3 linked regions of the Homo sapiens genome follow. The protein of the gene in region 2 interacts with the protein of the main gene of each other region in a biochemical or structural test. Each region holds a gene or a part of one and is shown on either strand. Other genes may lie near its edges.

What was found. Proteins that work in one complex are often made in the same cells at the same time.
Region 1: the proteins of FNBP1 (region 2) and TNKS2 interact in a biophysical measurement, tested with the Homo sapiens proteins (one study listed by IntAct).
Region 3: the proteins of FNBP1 (region 2) and ARHGAP17 form a complex in vitro, tested with the Homo sapiens proteins (one study listed by BioGRID).

Annotation. Positions count from the first base shown.
Region 1 is NC_000010.11:91,857,412-91,864,437, reverse strand, and holds part of TNKS2 (poly [ADP-ribose] polymerase tankyrase-2), read right to left. Parts: intron 7,014-7,026; coding exon 6,908-7,013; intron 4,977-6,907; coding exon 4,790-4,976; intron 2,440-4,789; coding exon 2,283-2,439; intron 1,502-2,282; coding exon 1,439-1,501; 3' UTR 1-1,438. UniProt on the Homo sapiens protein: Poly-ADP-ribosyltransferase involved in various processes such as Wnt signaling pathway, telomere length and vesicle trafficking.
Region 2 is NC_000009.12:130,040,165-130,047,361, reverse strand, and holds the start of FNBP1 (formin-binding protein 1), read left to right. Parts: upstream 1-4,172; 5' UTR 4,173-4,386; coding exon 4,387-4,410; intron 4,411-7,197. UniProt on the Homo sapiens protein: May act as a link between RND2 signaling and regulation of the actin cytoskeleton. Required to coordinate membrane tubulation with reorganization of the actin cytoskeleton during the late stage of clathrin-mediated endocytosis.
Region 3 is NC_000016.10:24,935,358-24,942,383, forward strand, and holds part of ARHGAP17 (rho GTPase-activating protein 17), read right to left. Parts: intron 6,787-7,026; coding exon 6,630-6,786; intron 4,241-6,629; coding exon 4,007-4,240; intron 283-4,006; coding exon 113-282; intron 1-112. UniProt on the Homo sapiens protein: Rho GTPase-activating protein involved in the maintenance of tight junction by regulating the activity of CDC42, thereby playing a central role in apical polarity of epithelial cells.

The DNA of each region.
Region 1 (7,026 bases), on a different chromosome or scaffold from region 2:
CGACTTTGAAGGGAGCTAGAGTCAACAAATAAAAGAGATTGCCAAGCCATAATGGATGTATGTCTCTGTAACAAGATGCTTAAGCATGCTTCCTGGAAAAGAGTTTTATATTAGAAAATAGGAATGGCATTTTATGGGACAGCATTTCCTTCTATAGCTGCCAAACTGAGCACAGGCGTGGTCACCATATGGTGCACAAACTGACAGCATATTTCCAATTGGGCATAACATCATGGAGAGAAAACCCAGGAGCAAGAAGCACCTGTTTCACTGCACTTGCCCATTCAGGAGGCCTGGAGGGGACTGAGACAACTACATTTTATAGTTCTGGGTTAAGTTTACCCATGATGTATAGATTGGCTATAAATACAGCAATAAAACCAAGTAAAAAGAACAGGAAAAAATATACTTAGGATAAAAAACTACCCAGTCCTGTTTGTGATTTTTTTTTTCCCCTTTAGATTTAAGGTAATTAGAATAGATTGGGAAATGATTTAGGATTACCCTTCCCACCCTGGAAATGTAACATCCTACTTATGTTCCATGAAAAGAACACAATAATTGTTCAACAGCAAGATTTAGTTTCTCTAAAAAACAGGAGCACTTTGCTCTAATTTTCACAGAAGGACTGCAGAAAATTTTCCAACATGAAAGCTAGAAATTGAGGCCAGTAAAGAAGCTTCTTTAGTAATCAGGACCTATCATAGTTAGAGCTCTTTGGAATGTGTCTCATACATACAAAGGTATCACAAATTAAATCTTCAGCATATTCATAAGTTCTTAAATGAGAAAGATTTCTAATGACAGATAAAGGCTCCCATCGGCAAATTAAATCTGATAACTCAATCTTTCCCAACTAACAACTGAACATAGCCTCTGGAATCAAATGTAAAGATCACTCAATCATGACGATGTAAGATGAAGTATAGATGAACAATACATATGAAAAAATTTTGTAAACCGCTGCAGTTCTAAAACAGATTTATATTACAAAGCAATGTAAATAAATACTGGGCTAGTACAAAAGCTCTTATTTACAGTTTTACAAATGAAATTGTATTCAGTGTAAATGCTGTGTTTTAAAGAACACAGTATTGTATTAGTAAAATTAGTTCTGTTGAGGGCATTACAGTTTGTTAGAATCAATGCATAACATATAAAAGGTTCAAGTTAACTCTGTTTATAATTTAGTACAGACAACCCAGTTTAACCTGGAATGGCATCTGTTAAAGTGCTGAAAAAACAGGAAATATTTAGAAAACACTGTACATTATTAAAGCTTTATCAAGTCAGAATGTTAAACTTCGTTCACATTTTTATCCTTTTGCCACAGGCCTGTGGGCAAGATGATTTTTTTTCAGCAAAGGAGTAAAACGTAGAGGCCACTGCTGCTTTGATGATTTTAGGTTCAGTGGAATTAGTTTCTTAAAATAACTATTTATCCATCGACCATACCTTCAGGCCTCATAATCTGGTAAGTAATTAAATACTCAGGATAAGCCTGGAAGAGAAAGATAAATTCAAATAATGGTACAAAAATTTTCTTGAAAGATAAACAGACTTTCCGGAAGTATTCCTAATCTTAGGGAGGAGGTTCTAAATTACTGTTGTAGATCAGAATCATCTAGGGACATTTTCTCAAAACATCTTTACCCTGAGTACAGTTCTTCAGATTTTCAATCAGCAAGTCTAAGATGAATACTAAGTTCATAAGTATCAGATAAGACTAAAATCATGTCTGATTTTAGTAACTGCGGTGATTCCGATACCTACTCCCAGTTCACAACACTGCTCTAGAACTACTTTTGGCTCTCACTGAGAGCAAAACACAGTTATATACTTCTTTGCTATGGACAGGCTGTTAAATACAAGATTTCAATTATTTATAAGAGCTAAGAAAAATCCGGAACGACTGGCGAAATTTGAATAAAATCTTCTTGTTTTTAGGAAATTTACAATTGAAATAGTTAATGGTAAAGGGACATGCCCTGCAACTTACTCTCAAACAGTTCACAAAAAAATAGGTACACACACAAGGAAAGAAGGAGAGAATGGTAAGAGTAAAAAAGAGAACAAAATATTAACATTTAGGAAATCTAGGTAAAGGTTATAAGAAAATTCTCTTTACTATTTTTGTAACTTTCCAAATCTGAAATTATCTCCAAATAAAATTTTTAAAAAATCCAGTTAAGGCAATATGTCTTGTCAATTCAAGAGATTAATAAAAAGTTAAAGTATGCCTCCCTAGCATTTTTGAAGATGAACAAATAAAACTACATTACCTGTTCTCCTCTGTAAATAACATATTCAGCTAATGCTAGGCCATTTACACTGGGCCTACCAGTGACTGAGTGATGACCTGGAGGAGAATGTGCCATTTTCATTGCACTGAACTGCAGGAAAGACTTTCCCAAGGTTACCCGGCAAAAGAGCAGCTGCCTATAAAACGAAAAGGAAAAGATCACCCTGAAGTCAAATTTGATACATAAATATGACAATGTGTGGACACGGCATAAGTTTTAAAAAATTATTTATACATAAATACTTATAATTGTTTTTATCATTTCACCCCTAAAAGAACTTTTTAAGAATGTCTTCTATTACTCTTATTAATGAAATAATTTGTCAATTTAGTTAGTCCTTATTTTAACTATAAAATCTGAAAAATGTAATAACCTTATAGAGATACAGACTCTACCACCTTGTTTGTATCTCAGCAAAAAACAAAAGTCACTGGCCAAGTGGGAAGGAGAAGGTTTAGTGGACTTCCATTAAGTGGCTTGCAAAGTTGGACACATATCTAATTAACTCCAGTTGATTTTACCTTCAAAATATATTTGAAATCCATTTACTTTTCTTAATTCTACTGTCACTATTAAGTCAAATCACTGAAATATTCACCTGGACTATCACACAATGGCTTTCTAAACCAGTCTTCCTGTTTCTTCTGTAATTCCTGTCCAAACCTTTCCCATCCAACTAATTAAAACAAACAAAAATTAGATCAAGTCACTTTTCTGCTTAAAACCTTTTAGAGGCTGTCACTGTACTTGGGAGAAAATCCAAATTCTGTACAATGGCTCCAATTTCTTGAATCTCATTTTATGTTCATTATGCCCCATGCACATTAGTTTTCTTTTCTTCACAAAGGCCAAACTTGCTTTATTAATGGTCCCCATCCACAGAATTTTCTCCACCATTGGAATGTTATCTATTTTACCACTCTTCCACTGGCTGATACCCACTCAATTTTCAGACTTCAGCTGAAATGTTACTTCCTTAGATAGGAAGTAAACTGGTAGTCTCCCCTCACCACCAGTTTCAGTAGATTACCCTCTCACTCCTCTCAGGCATGTGACTAGCCTTTCTTAGTTTCAAACAACCTTTTAGTATTAACGTCATTGTTTCTTTTTAGAAGATAACAGGAGATTTCTGTAGACCAGTTGATGGTTCTATCTTCCAAAGAAGAGGGAGGTATTAGAATGCTGCTTATTACTAATAATCAGAACTATTTAGCCTTCAGACCATATATGACAAATAAAAACAGCAGTGTTCAATTTACAGGAAATTACATGCCTCCTAACCACTCCAATTTATGATCTAAAATAGAAGTGAGTGGGACGTCATACATAGGAGGGCCTACTGTGTACTACCTATGCAGGCCTAAATTTAGAGGGGTAACAGTAAGAACAAAACAAACACAAAGAAAGAACCTGTTTCCCTCCATGACTGCAATTCTTCAGCTCGGAAGCCCTTTGAAATCAACTGGGAAGCTTTTAAAAATTCTAATATCCAGATCATGCCCCAGACCAATTAAAAGAGATTCTGTGAGGGTGGGACACAGGCATTAATAGTTTTTTAATATTCCCTGGGTGATTCCAATGTGCTGCCAAAGTGCAAAGTACTGCTCTAGGGGTTTTTTTCTAGATCAGTGGTCAGAAATACAGTGTCACATCTGGGAACTTGGTAGAAACTCAAATTCTAGAGTCTCATCCCAGATCTACTAAATCAGCAACTGAGAAGGTGGAGCCTAAGAATCTGTGATTTAAACAAGCCATCTAGGTGACTCTAATGCATGCTAATGCTTGATAAACTACTGCTCTGTATATTCAATAAGCAGTGCCCTAACTGTCGAATAAATCTCAGGAATTAATCTTACTGGATTTTTCAAGTGGCATTACTTTTTGCCTATAAGGATTTTATAAGTTAGGGACAAGTTACTTAAATGATTTTTAACAAGTGAGTTAGAACAGGTAATTAAAAGTGGAAAAAAAAAGTGCAAAGTAGTTATTTGATTATTATTTCCTTTCAAAAAGGATCAATGTTTTAATTTCAAGTTCTTATAGTAATATTGCAAATTGAGGATTAGGATCGTATCACAGTGGAAGAGAGGCTCAGGCACTGCCATCAAATAATTAGATTTGACAAATAATGCCATTTTAGCATTTGAATACTAGATTTTTAGAGTCCACAGAGTCCTACAATACTCAAGGGCTACAATAAAGCCTCTTTCATGCCTAATGTTACTTTCTACTCAGTATGCTTTAAGGCACCAGATATTCTAATGATTAAATTAGCCAAACAGGTCAAGTGCTTAAATTATAATTGGCCCATACGGATCATTTAATAAATATTAGCTATTATTACAATTGGTGAGAGGGCCAAAAGCAATCTAAAACATGCCTAGCTTGCATTCCTAAGACTGTCCAACATAATGCTTTGCCCTCAAAAATGCAACTAGTTCTTATCTGATTACCACCAAAATAAATGAGAACAAGTGATCTCTTACCTGTGGCAAATGTAACAAGATCTGTCTTTGTGAACTGGACACCCAGTACCTCCTCCAATTCCATATACATATTGATTGCTTTTGGAAGAGTTTTCAGCAAAATAAATGCCAGCTCCAAACATACCACCTATGTACGCATGCCTTTCATCAAAGCCTTTGTGGATAATTGCATTCACAAAAGGAGACCCTGAAACACATATAGATGGGTAACAATAATTTAAAATTTATCTTAGAATAAAAAGTAAAAAACTAGTTTCTTAGAAACTGAATTCTTAAATATATAGCCCAACCATAATAAAGCCAAAACGAAAAAGGGTAACAAGTTAACTGTCAGCCAGCTATTTTAGAATAAAGAACTGCTAACATCAACTAATGTTTCTAACAGAGTGCTGGTTTATGTGCTAAAATAAGGACACAGATTGAACTAGAAAAACAGAGTACTTGAAATATCAGTGTAAGAGTTACCAAATGCCAGACTGCAAATCCATAAAAATCTAAAACCAAGAGGCTCATAATTCACTTTAGATAGCAAAGCTAAATGCAATTAGGTCTTAGAATGATGCCTATGCCTGTGTGCTTTTTTGAAGATACCAAGTGGCCCAAGTAGACTTTCACATTCTTTTTTTTTTTAAATTTTTTTGAGATGTAGTCTCGCTCTGTGGCCCAGGCTGGAGTGCAGTGGCATGATCTTGGCTCACTGCAACCTCTGCCTCCCGGGTTCAAGCAATTCTCCTGTCTCAGCCTCCTGAGTAGCTGGGACTATAGGTGCACACCACCATGCCTGGCTAACTTTTGTATTTTTAGTAGAGACAGGGTTTCAACATATTGGTCAGGCTGGTCTCAAACTCCTGACCTCAGGTGATCCACTCACCTTGGCCTCCCAAAGTGTTGGGATTACAGGCGTGAGCCACCGCACCCGGCCCAACTTTCACATTCTTATTCTCTTTCTTATACCTCTTCTCTTCTATCCTTCCACTTCTGCCTTTCATTAATTACGATACAAGATTCTATCTGCAAATGTGGTGCTTTCCCTCACCCCCTGCACATTGACTTCTCTCTCCTCTTTCCTTGGGAGTGGAGTAGAGTGGGGGATGGAAAAAGTCAAAAAACCACAGCTAATTCATTTATCAAGATCACATTCCCTTTCCACAGACAGACAGGAAAATATACTGAATTCTACTTTACAGAAATACAGATGAATAGAATCATTTTTTGAATTAACTTGGGAAAACCAAAATTATTTATATTACAAATTAGAAAAACCATATTATAACCATCAATTAACAGATAAATAAATATGCTCTGTGTCAAGAGATTATCATGATAATTATTTAGGGTTTTGGAATAAGGAGTGCAACATGTTTAGATTCTGCACATGAATCCATTCTGTTACAGCCATTCTCCCAGGGTATTATGAAATTTACTGTGTTTTAGAGAACTTTACAGGTCTCTAAAATTTTTCTGCAATCAAGGACAAATGAAGAAACAGACTGGAACTACTATGGGTAATGTACTTGAAGCCCTCATAAATACTACATTAATATGTTTAACTTTGCTAAAATTTGAAAGACTAATCAACACCTGCCAGCTTATAATACAAAAAAAGTAGAAAATTCCAAGAAGAATAAGTAATTGTGCTTTCAATTCAATTCTATGGTTTCAATTCTACAGTCATCAGAAACCTCTACAGGTTCAATAACAATGGCTCTTTTCAAATTGTGTGGGTTTGATACTTAGAATCAAAATCAGAATAGGATGTACACCTTCTTCTGAGGTGATTCCCAGGTCTTATTTTTAATTCAATCAACTAGTTAAATGGAAAACACAAAATTTCCTAGAGTGACCATAAGCAAAATTTACTATTTAAAGAAAAAAGGAAAAGATAGTCAACACTCTCATTTCTATTTTTATTGTGGTAATCTTATTTAAAAACAATCCATTATAAAATACACAAATTCAAAAGAAGTTGAAAATATAAATGTGAAAGTTACAGAAATAGTAGGTTTATCTTAAAATACTGACATAAAGAATATACAGGCTTATTATTATTTCATATCTGAACAAAAAAACTATCCTAATGTGGAAGACAGTGGTAGAGTTGGTGGGGAGGAATCTTACCATGAAATAGCATTCGTTCATTGGCATGGTTGTGGTTTTCTTCAGAAACTTCTTTTCTCCGGTGAGTGTATCTTTCCCATAGTTTCTTGTTACAAACCTTCTGAATCTATAAAAAATAA
Region 2 (7,197 bases):
ATTACAGGTGTGAACCACTGCGCCCAGCTGTTTTGTTTTTTACTTAATAATTCACATAGGGGACTTTTGTGACCAAACGTGTTGGGATTTCTTCCCACCACCAACCAAGTAATTAATTTTGTAGTGGACATCAGCTGAGTGTCCTTTAATTTAGTGTTCTTTTAATTTTTATTTTTTTTTAGAGACTGGGTCTTGCTGTCACCCTGGCCATAGTCTAATGGTGCAATCACGGCCCACTGCAGCCTCGCACTTCACCTGCCTCAGCCACCATATACCTGGAGATAGTGTCAGATATCACAAATTGAGGGCTTGGTCCTCAAGACTGCCCCCCACCCCAAGTAGGTGTCAATCTTAAGTTTTAGGTTATGTGATCTGTCTTTTTTGACGAACTGTTTATAAATCAGAAATCTCAAGTCCTCCTTTTTGGGTTTAATTTGTTACAGTGCCTCACAGAACCTAGGGAAACATGTTTATTATAAAGGATATAGATGAAGAGATATATGGAGTACGGGGGAAGGAGAGTGGAACTTCTGTGCCCTCTCTGGGCATGCCACCCTCTAGGAACTTTTTTTTTTTTTTTTTTTTTGAGATAAAGTCTCACTCTGTTGCCGGAGTACAGTGGCTGGAGTGTAGTGGCGCGATCTTAGCTCACCGCACCCTCCGCCTCCTGGGTTCAAGCGATTCTCTTGCCTCAGTCTCCCAAGCAGCTGGGATTACAGGCACCCATGACCACACTGGGCTAATTTTTTTTTTGGTGTTTTTTTTTTTTTTTTTTTTTTTTGTATTTTTAGTAGAGACAGGGCTTTCACTATGTTGGCTAGGCTGGTCTCAAACTCCTGACCTCGGATGATCTGCCTGCCTCTGCCTCCCAAAGTGCTGGGATTACAGGCGTGAGCCACCACGTCCGGCCAACTCTCTAGGGACTTTTATGTGTTTAGCTATCTGGAAGTTCTCAGAACTTTGTTTTTTGGAGTTTTAATAGAGGCTTTATTTTATGTAGTCATGATTGATTAAGCTATTGACCATTACTGAACAACTTAACTTTCAGCGCCTCTCCCCAGTCCCCGGAGGTTGGAGTGACAGTGTGGGTGCAGATAAAAGTCCCACACCTCTAATCTTGTCTTGGTCTTTATGGTGACCAGTCCCATCTTGAGGTACTAATACTTAGGGACTGTCAGCCATCAGTCATCTCATTAGTATATAAAAAGACATCATTTTGGGGTTTTTAAGGATTTTAGGAGCTATACTTCAGGAAACAAGGTTGACGACAAAATATATATTTTGTAATATCACACCAAGATCATAATTTTGTAAATCAGTGTTCCCTAGATTTTACTGAGAGGTGAAACCAGTATCTGCAACCCAGATTAACCCCCTAGATAATATCAGCGTTTACATAGAGTTTAGAGTACCCCTGGTGAAAACTGATTCCTAAGTAGGTCAGGTCACAGTAGTTTGTTAATGGGGATACTTCCTTGTCTTAGAATCACTTCCTCCTGCTCTGAAGGGAAACTGAAATGGATTTAGTTCTTCCTAAAAAATGCTGTGCTATATTTTAGCCTTTTTTCTGCTGGCTTATTTCATTTTATCTCATGGCTTCATGATCATTGGTGTCTCTCTCCTTTATTTTTTGAAGATTCTGACACTTTCAAGCATTTTCCAGTTACTGCCAAAGCTTAATGAAGTTAAAGATATTTGCAGTGTTGTATAATTAACTCACATCCATAGAGTTCTGCGGCAGCTTTTAATGGGTTCCTTCCTATAACTAACAATCTCCTGCTTACTCGTCTTAAAAAGTTTCATCTTCATGTGGTCTCTTTTTTTCTTCTGCTGTCCCTTCCTCTTCCTCTTTCTCCTCTTTAAAGCAGCAGGTTGTTTTACTTCTTGATTAGAGTATTTTCACAAGTGGTCACTGTTTTTGAGAAGTCTCCAATAACTTGGTCAAGATTAGATCATTGTATTTGACTAAAAAGTCAAGCCCTGGCAGGAAGGTGATTACTGAGGCAATGTCTTGTTAGATAAACCTGCATTGCATGTACCGTTTCCAAATTTTAGCAGACTAAACTGTGCAGCATTGTTTGAATTTCCCCCTCCAACTCACTCTGGCTATTAATCTGCCTTAGGAGATAGGTAGCTGGCCGTTCTCATTGTTATATATCTAGCAGTCTCTGGAGGAAAGAGAATTCAGACCTGGTAACTGAGAGCAAAATATTTATACAGACACAAGAATGGGGGTGGGCAGGAAGGGAGGGTTGTAACTGAAAAAAGGCAGACCAAAACAGTTTTGACAACTTAAATTTATTGTAACTGCCCAACAAAGGAAGTAGAGTTGGAGGTTTATCTGCAAGAGGTTTTTTTTTGTTTTGTTTTTTGTTTAGTAGCTCCACCTCTTAATTTATTATTATTATTCATTTTATTTTATTTTTTGAGACAGTCTCGCTCTGTCACCCAGGCTGGAGTGCAGTGGCACAATCTTGGCTCACTCCAACTTCTGCCTCCCGGGTTCAAGCGATTCTCTTGCCTCAGCCTCCTGAGTAGCTGGGATTACAGGCGCCCTGTCACCACGCCCAGCTAACTTTTGTGTTTTTAGTAGAGACGGGGTTTCTCCATGTTGGCCAGGCTGCTCTCAAACTCCTGACCTCAGATGATCCACTCACTTCTGCCTCCCAAAGTGTTGGGATTACAGGCGTGAGCCACCATGCCCGGCTTTAATTCATTATTGTTAATATTTTTGAGACAGGGTCTTGCTCTGTTGCTCAAGCTGGAGGGCAATGGCACCATCATGGCTCACTGCAACTTCAACCTTCTAGGCTCAAGCGATCCTCCTGTCTCAGTCTCCCAAGTAGCTGGGACCACAGGTGCATGCCACCATGCCCAGCTAACTTTTTTTTTTTTCTTTTTGTAGAGACAGGGTCTTGCGATGTTGCCCAGGCTGGTCTCAAATTCCTGGCCTCCAGCCATCCTCCCACCTGGGCCTCCTGATGTGCTGGGATTACAGGCGTGAGCCACCAGACCCGGGTTAGCTCCACCTTTTAATGGAGGAGAATGATAAGCAGGTTGAAAATGGTGGGGTGGGATTGGAGAAATGCATCATCGTAAAATATTTTTTAACTGGGGGCCCATGTTGGGAGTCGCACGGTTTCTCAGAAAAGGATCCAGTAGTAGCATTAACCGAGGGAGAAAGATAAGCTGTGGGGAAAGGGCTAGTGATTCAGGAGTTGGAATTCCAAACATTTTCCATAGCTTGTCAGGAACATTTGTGCAGACCTTTGGATATATAGAGAGGGAGTCCGTCTGCTGATAAAATGAGCGCTGGGTTTACCAACCTTCGGCCTTGGCCCACCCCTGATCCTCACCGCCGGGCAGTGAGATGGACACGTTATTTGCCTCCATTTGGTGGACTGCGCTCTGCGCTTCCAGAGGTGGAGCAATTGTCCGCCTCCGCCCGGCCAGCACGTGCGGGAGGCTGGATTTGAACCAAACAAGTTATCTGTGTACCCCACGCCTTTGCTTTTACCCACTAGGCGGTAACGTGATTTCACGCCTGAGAGTTTCTTGGCTGAACAAGTTGGAAATCACTGGTTTCAGAGATTGGAAATCACTGGGTGCACGCCCCTGGATTCTTTCCCTAGCCACTCGAGGCCGTCGCGCTTGCCTCGACGTCTCTATTCGCACAGCGCGCAGTTACCACCGCCCCACTCCCACCGCGCCAGCCTGCGGGACTCTCGGGCTTCCCTCGGGCGGTGGGAAAAGAGCCTCCCGGGCTGACTCTGCTCGGCGCGCATGGCTGCCAGGGGAAAGTATTGTCCTTAAATCCAGAGCGGCGATACGCGCAGGGGAGCGATCTCAGACCGCGGCGGAGCATCGGTGATCCCAGGGCCTGCCGCGTTCCAAGGCAAGCGCTAGTACTGCGAGCAGACAGTGGTCACTAAGAAGTCATTACCAGATTGGCAGGGGGAGTCCTAGGGATCCGGGTCCCGCCGTCCCTCACACCTCCCTCCGCGTCCTTCCGGACCCCAGGGCGACGCGGACCCGGCCGGGGGAGCCCGGGGGAGGGGGCCGGGCCGGGGTGGGGCGGGCGCGCGTGCGCGAGCTGTCAGACCGGCCCCGCCCCTCCCCTCCCGCCCCTCCCCCGCTCTCCGGGTGTAGGGCGGGCGGGCGCTGCGGCGGCCGCGGCTGCTGCTTCCTCGGGCCATTTTGCTGTGGAGCGGCGGGGAGGAGGAGCCGCCGAGGAGACCCCGGGCGAGGAGCTGCGAGCCGGAGGAGGCCGCGCGGACTCCGGGCTTTCCGCCGTCGCGGGGATCTCGGGGGGCAAAGGGATCGCCGGGGAGGGGGACCAGAGAGCCGCGCCCGCCGCGCGGAGCGCCCCTTCGCGTCCCCTGCACCATGAGCTGGGGCACCGAGCTCTGGGTGAGTGAGGGGCTGGGCCCGCGGGCAGATGCGGGGCGCGCGCTGCGTTTCCCCGCGGCCTGGGGAGGGGGCGCGGGCCGCGCTGCTGGGCGGAGGCGAGGGCGCGCTGGTCGGGGTCCTCGCGGCCTGGGGAGGAGGCGGGGTTCCAATGCCCCTCGTCCGCCTTGGCCCGAGCAGGAGGTGCGGGCCGGCTTGTCCTTCGGAGGCGAGGGGAGTTGGTGCGGGTCCCCGGCGGCCTGAGGAACGGCGCGGGCGGGCCTCCCTGTCCCCGGCGCCCCGGAGCGGGCCGTGTGTGTCGGGCCGAGCCCTAATCCCCCGGGGCGAGCCGCGGATGCCCGGGGAGGGCCGGGACCGGGCGTGGGGGCGTGGAGGCCCCGGCTGCGCGGCGCTGCGTTGGGTCTCGGGGCGCCCCGGCCGCGAGTTCTGTCCTGGCTCCGCGGAGGCGCTGGCGGATCGGGCACTTCCCCGGGAGCGGGGCGGCCGGGGCGAGCGCCGGGGGTCGGGTTTTGGGGTGCTGGGGCGAGAGTGCGGTCTTCGCTCTGGAGGCGAGGACTTCTGGCCCGTGGCGGCTCCGGGCGCACTTGTTCTTTCGGGGTAGCTCAATCCTGAGTGGGATGTGGGCACTGCGACGTCTGGTCTGGAGGGGAAAGTGGGAGTTAGGGAGAGATCTTACGTGATCTACCTCAGGAAGAGGCGTTCGCGGGGTCAATGATCTTTAACGGTTGCTCGGAGAATAGTTTCCAGTGGGGAAAGTTGGCGGTGAGGGGCGCCTTGCGGGGATGCTTGGCCGGGGGATGCGCACGGTAAACGGGCAGCCCTCAGGGCTGAGGGCCGTCCCCGGAAAGGCGAGGGGCTGGCTGTGGATGGAGCTCTTTTCCTGCCGTCCCCGGATTCCTGGGGAAATCACTGGGCAGGGGATGGGCAGTGCGGCGGCCCGGGAAGGAGCAGACGAAATCTCAGTTACTGCACTGAAATGCCCTCAAGATGAGCCATTTCCCAGGATGAACTCTAAAGTGCCTGAACTACCTTTTGGAATTCTATTTGCAAAGGGTGTGGAGGAGAAAGTGTAGGGTGGTGTTGCTATCTGAGATGAGGCCAAGAAATCTCATATCAAAATAAAACAAGGTTAGAGCAATTACAGAAACAGAGCACATCCTCCCTTGTTTTTTGTTTTGTTTTCTTTTGCTTTAATTGTTTTTACATAACCATTTGTTAGGTACAGAAGCAGCTACGGTTGTTATTACCAAAATCCTGAGGGCAATAGCTCCCTTAAATTAAGATAATTCATTTTATAAACATCTTCTGCCTAAAAGGGATTCATGACAAAATTTCCGCTGATGTTTACAAGTATCCATTTTGAAAATAAAATAGTTTAAAATATTTGCACACACCAGTTTAGGCAAAATCTATGACTTTGAGTACCGTATTGAAGTTTCTTTCCTCTTCTAATCCTTCCACTCCCTTTAGCTCTCTTTAGCTTATCTGGGGTGGGGAAGCAAATCAGAAGTAATCTTTGTCAAGACAGTAGAAATTGTGGCACAATTTTTTTTTCACTTGTTCAGACAGGTGGATGGAATTATGGAGGGAAAATGTACAATATATTTCTGAGTGAAATAGGGACCGAACACAATACCTTGGTGGACAGTTCAGTGATGTTGGTGAATGGGATAGAATATAATTCCAAAGAGAGGCAGTGGCTATGAGCAAAACTGCTAAAACAGCGGCAATTGCTTGCATTATTCTGTACATTTCTTTTTGAGGGTGCAGAAGTGGGAAGGAAGGCAGGGTTAGGAGTGATTGAAAATAAATGAGAGAGGCCGGGCGCAGTGGCTCAGGCCTATATTGCCAGCACCTTGGGAGGCTGAGTCGGGAGGATCTTTTGGGCCCAGGAGTTCAAGAACAGCTTGGGGAATATCTGGAGAGGCCTCCTCTTAAAAAAAAAAAAAAGAAAAGAAAAAAGAAAAAAGAAAAAAATAATAAATGGGAACTGGAATATATACAAATATTAATGATATGAAATCTTATATTTGCTTCACAATAATTTGGGTTGTTAGTAGATGGGAGATAGTGAGACAGAGTTGGCCATTATTGAAGCCAAATGCTGAGTACAGAAGTATTCATTACACTATTCTTTCTAGTATATATATTTGACATTTTCTACAATAAAAATAATTGGAAAATAGTTTTAAAGGAGAAGGATGTGAACTATTTGTAATTTTTTCACTTGACAATTTTATGAGGAAGAATGAATCAGTTAACAGTTCTATATATGCAAGTGTATGGCAATGAGGAGTTTTTAAAAAGACATTCTTTTTTTTTTTTTTTCTGAGACGGAGTCTTGCTCTGTTGCCTGCCCAGGCTGGCGTGCAGTGGCGTGATCTCGGCTCACTGCAGCCTCTGCCTCCCAGGTTCAAACGATTCTCCTGCCTCAGCCTCCCAAGTAGCTGGGACTACACGCGCCTGCCACCATGCCCAGCTAATTTTTTTGTGTATTTAGTAGAGACGGGGTTTCGCCGTGTTGGCCAGGCTGGTCTCAAACTCCTGATGTCAGGTAATCCGCCTGCCTCAGCCTCCCAAAGTGCTGGGATCGCAGGCGTGAGCCACCACGCTTGACGTTAAAAAAGACATTCTTATGAGTACCAGCATTTGCCTTTGAGTAGCTTACAGTTTAATATAGGAAAAGGAATGAACACATGATTGTGCTACTAAGAGAAATGCAAAATCTAAGTTTTCAGGTGAAATGCAAAGATGTATAAGGCTTAGTAGCTTTTGAGATTTAAAAAAACT
Region 3 (7,026 bases), on a different chromosome or scaffold from region 2:
ACAACAGACATAGAAAAGATCTGGCCACAAACCTCACCATCTGAATCCTTGCACTAACTTAAGGAGGTCTGCACAGGCTTCCCTGAGGGCAAGGAGGACGGTGGCTGCTTACCTCGGCGCAGTGTATGCGGGCTGGGCCCTGCAGCATTGTGAGGTTGGCCCATGGAGAGCTGGTGGGAGCCAGCAGCTGCCTGGGGCTGATTTTGGCCAGATGCTATCTGACTGTTGTTTCTCCCTGGTGCTGGCACAGCTGCAGATACAGGGTCCTTCGGTTTGGGAGGACTAAGAGGAGTAAAAGTCAAGTTAGACGTCAGACAATCCCAGCTAGAAAATCTGAACATACTGCACATAAAACATAAGATTCCAAGCAGAGTTTTCACTTCGGCAGGCAGGAAAAGGATCTGAAATTCTAACTAGCTCACACTGGGCTTATAAAGCTAATGTTTACTTGGTGCCATATAAAGAGCTAATGTTTACTTGGTGCCATTTTTTTTTTAAGAGATGAGGTCTTGCTATGTTGCCCAGGTTGGTCTCAAATTTCTGGACTCAAGCAATCCTCTCCTGCCTCAGCACCCTGAGTAGCCGGGACTATAGGACTATTTATTTTATGAGATTCGTTGCATCAGACTGGACTCCAACGACTCTGCCACTCCAGTATCATCAGAGAGACCATTTCAAAGCAACCAATGCGGAGTTTTCAGTTCTACTGCGTTTGGACTTAAATTGGGCAGTACTTAATACCATGAAATGGCTTTTACATGTTGACATATACACTGTACAAAACTAAGCAAAAGCCATGGCAAAATAAGACCCTAAATGATAAAGGGCTTGATTATTATCAATAACTTGGACTGAAGAAGGAGAACTCAGAGGCTAAATGACTACTCGAAGTCCAGAGTTGGTAGCAGCAGGATAGAGATCAGAATTCAGGCTTCCTGTTTCCTGGCCCAGAACTTTTTATACCAAACTCTGTAGCTCCATTTTGTCAAGGTCACCAAAGAGTGAATAACATTAGTGTAATGTACATAAAAATACCTACAGAATACAGTATAAAAAACAAACAGCAGGCCAGGCACAGTGACTCACGCCTGTAACGCCAGCACTTTGGGAGGCTGAGGCACATGGATCACTTGAGGTCAGGAGTTCAAGACCAGCCTGGCCAACAAGGTGAAACCCCGTCTCTACTAAAAATACAAATATTAGCCAGGCGTGGTGGCGCATGCCTGTAGTCCCAGCTACTCTGGAGGCTGAGGTGGGAGAATCGCTTGAACCCAGGAGGTGGAGGTTGCCGTGAGTCAAGATCATGCCACTGCACTCCAGCCTGGCTGACAGAGCGAGATGCTGTCTCAAAAAAAAAAAAAGCAAAGTAACTGACATTCCATTTGTCCTTCTGCATTAAGACTAATTATTGTCTTAAATAATACATTTAGCCTTGATTAAACAAATGGAATGTCACAAGGAAATGAAAATATGTAAATTGGCTGGGCATGGTGGCTCATGCCTGTAATCCCAGCACTTTGGGAGGTTAGGGAGGGAGGACTGCTTGAGACCAGGATTGAAGACCAGCCTGGGCAACACAGTGAGACCTCGTCTCTACAAAAATTTAAAAAAATTAGCTGGGCATGGGGATGCACTACTATAGTCCCAGTTGGGAGGCTGAGGTGGGAAGATCGCTTGAGCCTGGGAGATTAAAAGGCTGTAGTGAGCCATGATCACACCACTGCCCTCCAGCGTGGGTGACAGAGCAAGACCCTGTCTGAAAAAAAAAAAACAACAAAAAACAGGCCGGGGCAGTAGCTCACGCCTGTAATCCCAGCACTTTGGGAGGCCAAGGCAGGTGGATCACTTGAGGTCAGGACATCGCGACCAGCCTGGCAAACATGGTGAAACCCCATCTCTACTGAAAATACAAAAATTAGCCAGGCATGGTGGTCCATGCCTGTAATCCCAGCTACTCCGGCGGCTGAGGCAGGAGAATCATTTGAACCCAGGAGGCAGAGGTTGCAGTGAGCCAACATTGCACCACTGCACTCCAGCCTGGGCAACAGAGCGAGACTTCGTCTCAAAAAATAAATTAATAAATAAAAATAAATAAAAATAAAAAACAAAACCAAGAAAAAGAAAATAAGTGAATTTGCTTAGACTTTTTTCCTTCAAACAAAAAAATTTAAACCAAAACAAGTACATGCATAGGGCACAATTATTGACAAGCTAACGTGCAGCCTATGAGGTGCACGGGAAGCCCTAAGAAGTCTGAAGTCTTAATTTTTTTTAACCCCAAAGTAAACTTTCCCAAGGTGAAGAAAATGGAATTCAGGAATGCACAAAGCATTCAGCATTCAGTTTTAATGGTGAAACAAGATTCCTATCTCACGAGCAGCTTCACACACAACAAGGCTCTCCCTTGCTCATCCCAAGGACGATGAGAAAGGAGTTCTTTCAAGGCAAATTCATCTCTCTGTGTGGGAAATAAACGTGTGGATAAACAGCCTGTCCTTGTTTTGTGCACATTTATTTTACTTCATATATGATCATTCGGTGTGTTGTGGATGGCCAATGCAGAACATATGACAACAAAAATTTTGGCACACATGTATGCAAAGCTAAGCAGCTGTCAGTTCCAAACCACAAGAGATGCCACCTGAAGTAGCCTCTGGTGGTCATCTGCCTGGATCAGTGTGGAGAACTGAATTAATGTCAATTAAATAAAAATCTCAAGTTATGGCTGGGCGCGGTGGCTCACACCTGTAATGCCAGCCTTTGGGAGGCCAAGGCAGGGGGATCACCTGAGGTCAGGAGTTTGAGACCAGCCTGACCAACATGGCGAAACCCTGTCTTTACTAAAAATACAAAAAAATTAGCCTGGCATGGTGGTGTGTGCCTGTAATCCCAGCTACTCCGGAGGCTGAGGCAAGAGAATCACTTGAACCCGGGAGACGGAGGTTGCAGTGAACCGAGATTGCACCACTGCACTCCAGCCTAGGCGACAGAGTGGGACTGTCTCAAAAAAAAAAACCTCAAGTTCAAGGTGACTTTTCTTAAAAGTTGCTATCCATTTGCAGCCCACTCCAGGTGGCTTATCCAAAGGTTAAGCAACTAAAAGAGCCTTTTAAGAAAATCTACCAGCTAGGCATGGTGGCTCATGCCTGTAATCCCAGCATTTTGGAAGGCTGAGGCAGGAAGATCACTTGAGGCCAGGAGTTCGAGATCAGCCTGGGCAACCTAGGGCATCTATGTTTACCCCATCTTTACAAAAATAAAAAAATTAGCTGGGCATGGTGACAAGCACCTGTAATCCCAGCTACTTGGGAGGCTTAGGTAGGAGGATTGCTTGGGCCTAGGAGGCGGAGGGTGCAGTGAGCTACGATTATGCCACTGCACTCCAGCCTGGGCAACAGAGCAAGACGCAGTCTCAGAAAAAAAAAAAAAAAAAAGAAAAAAGAAAAGCTACCATCTTATTTTCCACCTTGGACTCATGGATCAACTGCCCTACAAGACTGAAATCTGGGGGTGTGGAGTGGAGTCTTAGTCACCTCATGTGCCTAGCACATATCAGTGACTCAGTAAATCTGTTTCACTGAATCAATCAACGAATGGGTGAATAAATGCCAGGAATACGAAAATTTAACTAACTTGCCACACTCAAATGCTTCCTGGTTAGCACACTGGATGACAATGAACAGAAGGTACATGAATGCTGACAGTATACATCCAACAGGTGACAGAGGCTCATCACACTATGAGACATCCACTGGCTTCCGGTTTCCAGCACCAAAGCAGTGTGGCAAAGAATGCAAACCAATGTTGCTTTCTTTGGAAAACATAAAAAGAAGCGAGCCATTCATAGTCTTTTTTTCCATCTTTTGCCAACCAGAGGAGTGAAAGTAAATCTGTTCACTCCATGCTGGAGCAGTTCTTTGGGCATGGATGCCGTGCTCAAAGGCCACCACCTGCAAGAAGGCTGGGGCGTCCAGCCTCCACTGCCAGCAGAAGTCAGCCTCCTTACCTGCCGTCGCCTGGGCTCGGCCCCTGCTCCAGTATGCCCGCGGAAGAGGGGACAGTCCCACCCCCAGAGCTGCTTTCAGCCCTAGAGCTCTGGGGAGGGGGCTCTGGGCCAGCGGGCACCACGGTGCTGCCATCTGTGGGCGGAAGTGGCGGCTGGAAAGCGGGGGATATGTGCTTTCTATTTAGAGTGCCACCCCGCCGGTGGGCCTGGAAGTCCATAAGCTTCACACCAAAGCTACACAGAGAGAAGAAACAGTCAACACACCATGCGAGCAGACTACTGAGACAGAAGCCCATCGGTCCACATGTGTTAAAACCACACATGGGGATAGCCACCCAAGCTGCCCGGCATGCAGTGAAGCGGCAAGGACCAGACTAATGGCCACCCCTGAGCAACTCCACTCGGCTTCAAGCCTGAGCAAAGCCAATGAACCTGGTACTGTTCAATGTCTTTGATCAATTTGGGTGTGAGCAGCTAAAAGCAAATAGGCAGGCCTCATCTTGAATGACATCATGTTAGTGTGTTTATCCCCATACTTCCTCTGCTGTTTTTTTCCCCCTTTAGACATGTGGTCTCACTCCACCACCCAGGCTGGAGTGCTTGGCACTCCAGTGGAGCAATCATAGCTCACTACAGTGCCAAACTCCTGGGCTCAAACAATCCTCCAGCCTCAGCCTCTGGAGCAGCTTGGACTACTGGCACACATCACCATACTGGGATACTAAAAAAAAATTTTTTTTTGTAGAGATGCGGTCTCACTACATTGCCCAGGCTGATGTCAAACTCCTGGCCTCAAGTATTCCTCCTGCCTTGGTCTCTCAAAGTGCTGGGATTACAGGCATAAGTCACCACATCCGGCCTATTTCCATACTTCCTAGTTCCCATCTCAAATCTGTTTTTGGGGAATGACACAGAAGTCAAGTCCAGAAGGCCTACCAATGGCAGTGTAAGGTTATCACACCACACTGCCTCTTAACTGAGATGAGATGTAGAAACAATCCTATGTGCATATGCAGACTACATGTGAAAGGTACATAAGGCTGGAAAAGCTGGGCATGGTAGCTCACACCTGTAATCTTAGCACTTTGGGAGGACAAGGTGGGAGGATCGCTTTAGCTTGGAAATTCAAGACCAGCTTGGGAAACATCGTGAGGCCCTGTCTCTACAAAAAACTATTTTTTTAGAAAATTAGCTGCGTGAGGTGGTGCGTGCCTATAGTCCCAGCTAGTCAGGTGTGTGAGGTGGGAGGGCTGCCTGAGCCCAGGAGGTCAAGGCTGCTGTGAGCCATGATCATACCACTGCACTCTAGCCTGGGCACATAACCCTGTCTCAAAAAAACAAAAACCAAAAAGACTGGAAAAAGCCGTTGCTTTGGGGAAGGGAATGGTGGCTGGATGTGGCTGGAGAGGGTGGAAGGAAGGCTGACTTTTCACTTAAGGCGACTGATCTATGAACTTAACAACTTTTTCTTTCAGTTCAAAAAGTAAAAAGATACCTGGCTTCTTGAGCTCGTGCTTACTGGGTCAGCTGGCAGGGAGAATACACAAGGCAGGTAACTGAGAATTGTCTGTCACGTGCTAACTAGACTCATGCACTGTATTCTGTAACTTAAAATATATGAAAGCTAATTTTGTTACAGGTAGAGTCTGTCATCAGGAAATACTACTGAATGTATGAATGAGGGTTCAGAGAGGTAATACGTCTGCATAGAATAAATGTGGATTTTGGAAGGACAGAATAGGGACAGAATAATGCATTCTCCTTTGCTAGGGGTAAAAAATGCAATACAAAGAACAAGAAACAAACAGCACACCTCACTATAAGACTGAGCAATTAAAATAAGAGCTTGTCACTTCGTTTTAATGTAAAACTATTTCTAGTAGTATTATTTAATATACCAAGAAAAGCATATTACTTCCAACAGGCCTCTTAACTGTTAGCATTCCTAGTGAGTACAGTGGCATTTCATCACACACATGGGACAGGTTGGCATCCAAAGGCACAAATTACAAACAGTCTTAATCACCCTTGAAAATCCCATGAATTGCCCATAGAAAAGAGTATATAGAGACACACTGCTTCTCACTAAGTTCAACACTGCCATTTTTTTTTCTTCTAGAATTGGCAAATACTGAGGTTTTTCCCACTGAACATCAAATTCAGTGGTTGGCTTCCATTGTGGGGCCACATTATACCAGAAATATGTCTCCTTAAACGCCAAATCACTCAACTCACTGTGCCAGGTGGGTGTTCTCACACTCAATTCTGGACAAAAGTCCACACTATTGAATTTATTTTCCTTTCTGTTTCCCCCCACTCACGTACATCTGGGTCACTTTTAACATGTGTATGATGCCGTTCCACTGCAGGGCTTACCAAGCACACCACCAAGTTAAGCTGGAATACACGTGGAAGAAACGTTAACTGAGAAGCTACACACTGACTTTATGGTGAGATTAGTGCTTGGAATGACCTACAGCAGAATTCCAGAAACTATCTGGACACCATCAGTCATGGGTGGATGGCGACCACTCTCAAATCCCAAGTCCACTGAGCGATACCAGATACCACGGGTCTAACAACATATTTACTGCTGGTTTGGAAGTGAACGGTCAAATCATACCTTTCCTTCTTCACCAAGTCTCCTTCCATCACCGCCATGCTAGCAGGCCGCTTCCTCTCCAGGGTCCCCGAGTCAGAGTCGTTTCCAGTGTGGAATGAGTGATTAGAACTCGGGGTGGTGAGAGGTACAAATGCTTCTGATACATTAAATTCCACCTCTGCAAGAGGAAAAATAAACAAGTGCATGAGACACTGAGCACAGCAGGCGAGGGAGCTCTAAGACACCCCTCATTGGAACGGGAACCTCGTTCTTCAGTCCACAGCCCTCACTATTTCAAAGTGGAAGCTCCAGGCACTCACATCGCAAGAATGGTCCATCAAACCAGTGGGAAGTAATGTTAAGAGGACAAGACAGGGGAAGAAGTATGGGTCAGAATATAAGTTACACACTTTTGTGC